Linked DNA regions of Homo sapiens. The protein of the gene in region 2 purifies or fractionates together with the protein of the main gene of each other region. This does not show direct contact. Each region holds a gene or a part of one and is shown on either strand. Other genes may lie near its edges.

What was found. The genes of interacting proteins can lie anywhere in the genome.
Region 1: the proteins of ZC3H11A (region 2) and AQR purify together in Homo sapiens (affinity purification with mass spectrometry; one large-scale study listed by BioGRID and IntAct). This does not show direct contact.

The regions. Positions count from the first base shown.
Region 1 is NC_000015.10:34,966,943-34,971,082, forward strand, and holds the start of AQR (RNA helicase aquarius), read right to left. Parts: upstream 2,801-4,140; 5' UTR 2,672-2,800; coding exon 2,597-2,671; intron 1-2,596.
Region 2 is NC_000001.11:203,851,123-203,854,622, reverse strand, and holds the end of ZC3H11A (zinc finger CCCH domain-containing protein 11A), read right to left. Parts: coding exon 3,499-3,500; intron 2,483-3,498; coding exon 2,224-2,482; 3' UTR 499-2,223; downstream 1-498. UniProt on the Homo sapiens protein: Through its association with TREX complex components, may participate in the export and post-transcriptional coordination of selected mRNA transcripts, including those required to maintain the metabolic processes in embryonic cells.

The sequences.
Region 1 (4,140 bases), on a different chromosome or scaffold from region 2:
CTCAGCTCACTGCAACCTCTGCCTCCTGGGTTCAAGTGATTCTCCTGCCTCAGCCTCCTGAGTAGCTGGGATTACAGGCATGCACCACCACGTCCGGCTAATTTTGTATTTTTAGTAGAGACAGGGTTTCTCCATATTGGCCAGGCTGGTCTCGAACTCCCGACCTCAGGTGATCCGTCCACCTCAGCCTCCCAAAGTGCTGGGATTACAGGTGTAATCCCACTGCGAGCCACAAGCCACCGCACCCGGCCCACCCTGGCCTTCTTTACATTCACACCTTAAGGTGTGTGTACTTGCTATTTCCTTGCTCTTCTCAAAACTGGCTCCTTCTTTGCATTCAGGTGTTAGCTCAAATGTCACCTCGGAGAGAACTTTCCTGACTGTCTTTCATACACCTCAAACCAGTCTGTCACAGCCCTGTTTCATTTTCCTCATAGCATTTATCAGTGTATGAAACTATACCGTTCATCTGTCTGGTTCTTCCCTCTAAAATGTGAGTTCCATGACAGAAGTAAACTAATAAATGACTTCTACTGCAAAAATGCAGGTATATGGGGAAAGAGACCTCTAATCTCGTTTAAGTTGTCAGGAAAAGCCTCTCTAAAGTAGTGTAGAAGGCTGAGAATGAATAAAGGAAGGTGGGGAGAAAAAAAATGAGGATTCCTAGCAGAGGAACAATGTTGAAAAGCCAGGAGATGAAAGATAGCATGGCACATTCAAATAAACGAAGTTCTGTACAGCTAAGGCACAGAGTTAGAAAGGAAGAGGAAAAAGAGGAAACTGAAGATATAAGCACAGGTCAAATCACACAACACTATGAAGGATTTCAGCCGTTAACCTAAGGGTAATTAGAATTCTTTAAAGATTTCTTTTTTTTTGCTTCGTTTTTAGACGGAGTTTTGCTCTTGTTGCCCAGGCTGGAGTGCAATGGTGCGATCTTGGCTCATTGCAACCTCCGCCTCCCGGGTTCAAGCAATTCTCCTGCCTCAGCCTCCCGAGTAGCTGGGATTACAGGCATGCACCACCAAGCCTGCCTACTTTTGTATTTTTAGTAGAGACAGGGTTTCTCCATGTTGGTCAGGCTGGTCTCGAACTCCCGACCTCAGGTGATCGACCTGCCACGGCCTCCCAAAGTGCTGGGATTACAGGCATGAGCCATCGCGCCCGGCTGAAGATTTTAAGGACAGCCAGCCTTAGTGTAGTCCCTGTAGTCCTAGCTACAAGGGAGGCTGAGGTGGAAGGCTCACTGGAGCCCAGCCAACATAGTGAGACCCTATCTTGAAAGAAGAAAAGGAAGGAAAGGAAGGAAGAGATTTTTTTTTTTTTTTGAGACGGAGTCTCGCACTGTTGCCCAGGCTGGAGTGCAGTGGCGCGATCTCGGCTCACTGCAAGCTCCGCCTCCCGGGTTCACGCCATTCTCCTGCCTCAGCCTCCCGAGTAGCTGGGACCAAAGGCACCTGCCACCATGCCCGGCTAATTTTTTTTCTTTTTATTTTTAGTAGAGACGGGGTTTCACCGTGTTAGCCAGGATGGTCTCGATCTCCTGACCTCGTGATCCGCCCGCCTCGGCCTCCCAAAGTGCTGGGATTACAGGCGTGAGCCCCTGCGCCCGGCCGGAAGGCAGAAATTTTAAGAAGGCAAGTGATATGATGAGATTTGCACTTGTATGAAATCACTCGGAAAGCAACATGAAGAATGGGCTAGAGCAGAGCAAGAGGAAGGACAATATAACAGATTACGATACCTTGGTCCAGGCAGAAAACAATGGCAACCAAGCTTAGGGTGACAGAGATGTAGAACACCAGATAGATTCAAAAGATATTTAGAATGTAGAAATGTAGGGACTAAGGGAAAGGGAGGATTCAAAATCACTCCCTAGGCTTCTGCCCTGGCAAATCTGTTGAGACAAGGAATAAAGAATAAAGAAGCAGGTGGGCATGATAACTTCTACATTGAACTACTTACACTCTTATGCAATTCACAAATAAATAATAAGAATGAGGAATGATGCTGACAACCACAGGACTGTGGTTCCCTATCCAAAGCCAACTGTGGCTCACAATGCAAGATAGTAAACAGATTCTAAATGAACGCTCTCAAACTACAGAATTACTCTGTTTTTAGATAGGTCTATTTGGAGGTGTCTTGTCAGTTTCTCATCGCTGCTCAAAAACTCAGGACACTCTAAGGACCAGGAAAAAGCCTACTCCTACTTGAAGAGGCAGTCCAGCATCACTCTGCTGCGAAGCCTACTTGCCAGTCTCAGATAGACTGGGGTGTTCCCTCCTCTCTGAATCCATTGCTCCTGAGACAAACTCCAACACAGCAAAACTCATACAGTAGTTTTATTTTCATGCGTCTGTCTTCCTTGGGCCATGAACTCCCCAGGGCAGGGCAGCTTCTTTCACCACGGTATGCCCAGCACCTAGCATAGTGGCCGGCACGGAGCTGATACTCAGTAAAAAGACGTGTGTGAATCAATTAACAAACGAATGCCTCCTCCGGACTCCTAAATCCTGAAAAAAAACCCCACCACCAGGCCTCGGGGCCACGACGTCCATACCCACTCACACACACCAGACTCGCCCGAGCTCACCTGGGTCACGAACTCCGCATTGATTTGGGACACCGTAGGGGCCACGATCTTCTTGGGCTGCGCAGGGGCTGCCATGGCAGCACTCTTCCCTCCACTCCAGTGGAAACTAAAGGACCGCTCTGGGCAGCGGCAACCCTGGTCCACTTCCCTTAAGTTACTGCCGGGGCGCTTAACTCCGCGCCGCACAAACGCTCCGGGCCGGATATCCTCAGCCTTCAGAGTCCCGTAGGGAACCCGTACAACAGCCCAAGCGTTCCTCGGGAAGCGGAATGGCGTGTAGCCGGAAGTTCATGCAGGCGTTGGGGCTGAGCTAGCGAGCCAAGAGCTTTGACCTCCTCTGTACACGCCCTCTAGCGGGCGGCAGAGAGAAGACACCTCGCTGGCGGGATTAGGAGGGCAAGGGAGGGACCCGGTGGATGGTGTTGGGTGGGGTTTCTCGTGGTTAGTGAAGAGTGCCGTGTGCGGTGAATGGGGATTTAGTTTTTTTTCAACCCTAAAGAAAAAACAAAACAAAACAAAAAAAACAGCCTGGGAATATGGGCTGGGTTTTAACTGCCCTTAACAGTGTTTTAGTTTAGTTTTGTTTTTTTTGAGACGGAGTTTCGCTCTTGTTGCCCAGGCTGCAATGCAATGGTGCAATCTCGGCTCACAGCAACCTCTGCCTCCCGGGTTCAAGCGATTCTCCTGCCTCAGCCTCCCGTGTTGTTGGGATTACAGGCATGCGCCACCATGCACAGCTAATTTTTGTATTTTTAGTAGACACAGGGTTTCTCCGTATTGGTCAGGCTGGTCTCGAACTCACCAACTTTAGGTAATCCGCCTGCCTCAGGGTCCCAAAGTGCAGGGATTACAGGCCTTAACAGTTTTATGGAGGTAAAAATTGACATACAATAACCCAGCCAGGCGCGGTAGTCACGCCTGTAATCCCAGCGTTTTGGGAGGCTGAAGCTGGCCGATTGCCTGAGGTCAGGAGTTTGAGACCAGCCTGGCTAACATGGTGAAAACCCATCTCTACTAAAAAACAAAATTTAGCCGGGCGTGGTGGCGCGCGCCTGTAGTTCCAGCTACTCGGATTCAGGAGAATAATCACTTGAAGCTGGGAGGCGGAGGTTGCAGTGAGCCGAGATTGCGCCATTGCACTCCAGCTTGGTGACAGAGCGAGACTAGCCTCAAAAAATAAAAATAAAATAATAATAAAAATAATTCACATACAATAACCCACACATATTTAGGTTGTAAAATTTGATGCGTTTTGACATGAACATACATTTGTGAAACTATTGCCAAAATCATAATGAGCATATCAAAGCCTCTAAAAGTTTCCTCGTGAACTTTTGCTATCTGTGCCTTTCACTGTTCCCACCCACTTTTCAGGCAACCACTGATCTGCTTTCTGTCACTATAGTTTGCTTTTCATGGAATTTTATATAAATGAAATAATACAGTGCATGCCTTCTTTCACTCAACGAAATGATTTTGAGATGGATTCATGTTGTTGCATGTATCAGTAGTTCATTCCTTTTTTATTGCTTAACATTCGTTCC
Region 2 (3,500 bases):
TTCCTACAATTTTAAAAATTGGCACACATATTAAGAAACCTGGACTTCTATAAATTAAATTTCTTATCTGCTGCACCTTCATGCTTGAAAATTCTAAATCGTTGACTCTAAAGATCAAGTTTATTCATTTATTTATTTTTTATCAGCCTCTTGAGCCAGAGTAGGCCCAGAGAGACTCCCTAAGATCACTTTTAAACCCTCCCTCCTTTTAAAAACTTAATGGCATTGCTTGAGTTACAACACTAAGGAGTAAGTATCCGTGTCAGAAAAAAAATCCTCACATTATAATAATATAAATTCTTACCTAAAGCATATGCAGCTAAAATTGAGCACACTTGTAAATTTGGCAATATATCCAGATGAAAGGTTTCTAAGCCAAATAATAACTGAAATTCGGGCACTTACACGAAAGGCCAATAGCATTCTGTCTGGGGTCTCTTGTCAAGATGGATCCCAGGCTGATATGATGATGTAAGATTACTTAGCTCACAACATCAAGACTTTCCTACATCAGTTTTATTTAAAACACAAACAAGTATTTCTCTTTCTGTAAGGGCAAATGGTTCAAATAATGCGGAACACGAAACATTGACTAATACAAGTGCTTTAAATATGAAACAAAATTATTTTTTAAAAAAGCAAAAGAATAAAGAATATATACAAAAGGGACCTGGAATCTGTAAGCTGATTCCAAAAACGAAATAAGTAGAAAATCCATGGTGAAACCTGAACATTCTACCTCTGCTTTGGAGAAGGGCTATCATACAACATTCAGTCAGCTGAAGATGGATTGGTAGAGGTGTGTCTATACATAAACTTCAGTCATTTTTGCTTGTGCAGAATCATCCCAATCTTCCCAAGACTGAATGGGCAGTCCTGTGGCTTTCTTCCTTTTCCATATTCCCAACAAGGCTACGTGAAGTTCAACTCTTGATGAGCCGCTTACAACAGCAGTTCCTTAGGAGCCAACATGACAGGTGGGTCAGATTTCCCTATGAGAAACAAAACTGGCCACCTACAGCAAAATATCAAAATGGGTAAGTCCTTCCTTCCTCTTCCTCCTGATTATATACAACATATCTCCTTTCAAGACTATTATTTCCATCATGCTTATTCCTTCACAAATCTAAACCTTGAGGTGATATGAAGGAAACCAACATCAAGAAAAGAAAACTCAATTCAGAAATGAAGAAAACTGGCAGGTATACAATACACCCCCAGAGCATCTCAATATCCCTGGCACAGTACAATTCAGTGTACTGCTACAGCCCATAGATAAATATTGGCAGCTTGAATAAGCTCATTTTTTCCCTCAGGTGGTTAAAGGCCACCAAACAAATACTGGGCAACAGGGGTTTGTTGGGAGAGTTAGAAATAAAAAATTAACCAAATTTTGTCCCTGTGTTAATTCAATGCCAGCAAGGAGGCAAGTACTGAAGAAGAAAAAGGACAATTTTCATACTAAAAAAGAATTCCTCTAATCATGTCACCATCTCATATAATGAATCCAGGGAATCCCAGAAATAGAAAATTAGTTTCAGGGGACCCCTGAGGCACTTTAAAGCCTTTTAAAAAATTACAGTAATAATAAATTAGATATTGCTCTTCAGAGGCTAACAGAGCAGCAGAAGCATCAAGATCAGGTCCAAAGAGTTATGCCCACATTACAGGCTTCCTGAGCTGCTCAGCCCTCTTTAAAGCTTAGTTGAATCTTTAAATACCTTTAAAAAGACATACAATTTAACACAGACTGAGTGGGTATTTTTGTTTAGTGGTAGCATAAAATTTGGTCCTTAATGGTAGCAGCTGTCTTCATCCATTTCAAACTCAGGTAATATTAAGTACATCAAGACAATACATAAAGAATACAACAAAGAAGAAAAAAGCCAAAACTGACAAACACCTCAAGGAGTCACTAAGTTCGCTTGCACCCTTTCACTTGATCTCCCTCTCAGTCTCTTTTTTGTGGAGAGAAGGGTATGACAGAACTTTTTTCTCAAAAGATGATAAACAATGGCATCAAATGGACAAAATGGTTATAAAGTAACTTTAAAAATCTGACCCCAAGGAATCCAGGACACATACAGATAATTCAGAGGTATACTTCTGATTTGGGGCAAATTCTAGACTAAAGAAATGATCATCTCAGGTAAATGTTACAATAGATGAAACTAAGTCCAGTTTTTTGGCGATTTTTTTTTTAAAGTGTCCTCACTACCACCTTCAGCTATCAATCATTTCTGATAGCTCAAGCAGAAGGTCATCTTCATCTTTCCCAGGATCCAGGTCAATCTCAGCTTCCAATTTGCCTCCTGAAATCTCCCATATTAGTTTCTCAAAATCATCCTCCACAGAGAGTGGGGGCTTTCCTGTTGAGGCAGAGCTGAGTCGGCGAGTTTTCATGCTCATTTGGGATGAGGAAGGGCCAGACACCTCCGGGGGTGAGGAATCTGAAGAGGACTGGGTTGGAGGCAGCACAAGACTGTAAGAAAAAAAAGATTATTAGAAAACTGCCGTTTTAAAAATAGTTGGCTGAATCACCTAGTCTCACGGACACAAAGTGAGCAAAAATTTGTTTTTAAGAACATACATAAAGAAATAATTCTTTTACTGATTTGGGATCAAGCTTTTTTTTTTTTTTTTTTTTTTTTTTTGAGGCAGAGTCTCCCTTTGTCACCCAGGCTGGAGTGTAGTGGTACAATCATGGCTCACTGCAGCCTCGACCTCCTGGGCTCAAGCGATCATTTTGCCTCCGCCTCCCAAGTAGCTGGGTCTACAGGTGTGTGTCACCATGTGATTTTTTTTTTATTTCTTTGATTTTTATTAGAGACAAGACCTCACTATGTTGTCCAGGCTGGTCTTGAACTCCTGAGCTCAAGTGATTCTCCAGCCCCAGTCTCCCAAAATGTTGGGATTACAGGCATAAGCCGCCTTGCCTGGCCAGCACCAAGCATTTTTATAACTCAAAGTAGGTGTTAAAGACATCTTTCAGGGGCCGGGCATGGTAGCTCATGCCTGTAATCCCAGCACTTTGGGAAGACGAGGAAGGTGGATCACTTGACGTCAGGAGTTTGAGACCACCCTGGACAATGTGGCAAAACCCTGTCACTACTAAAAATACAAAAATTAGCTAGGCCTTGTGGCAGGCACCTGTAATCCCAGCTACTTGGGAAGCTGAGGCAGGAGAATTGCTTGAACCCGGGAAGTGGAGGTTGCAGTGAGCAGAGATTGTGCCACTGCACTCCAGTCTGGGTGACACAGTGAGACGCTGCCTCAAACAAAAAAACAAAAAAACATCTTTTAGGTAATATAGCAAAATGTAAACAATGGCACCAAAGAAGAACAGCAACCCTAGATTTTCATACTTTCTTGCAATTAATTTGAAGTGCAACAGATTTATTTGAATGTTGCTAAAGTTATTTATCAGTGTTATTCTCTAGAGAGCCTAAACAGTAACAGGGGCCTGGAGTTTGTTTAGAAAGAATTACAAAGTATTACCT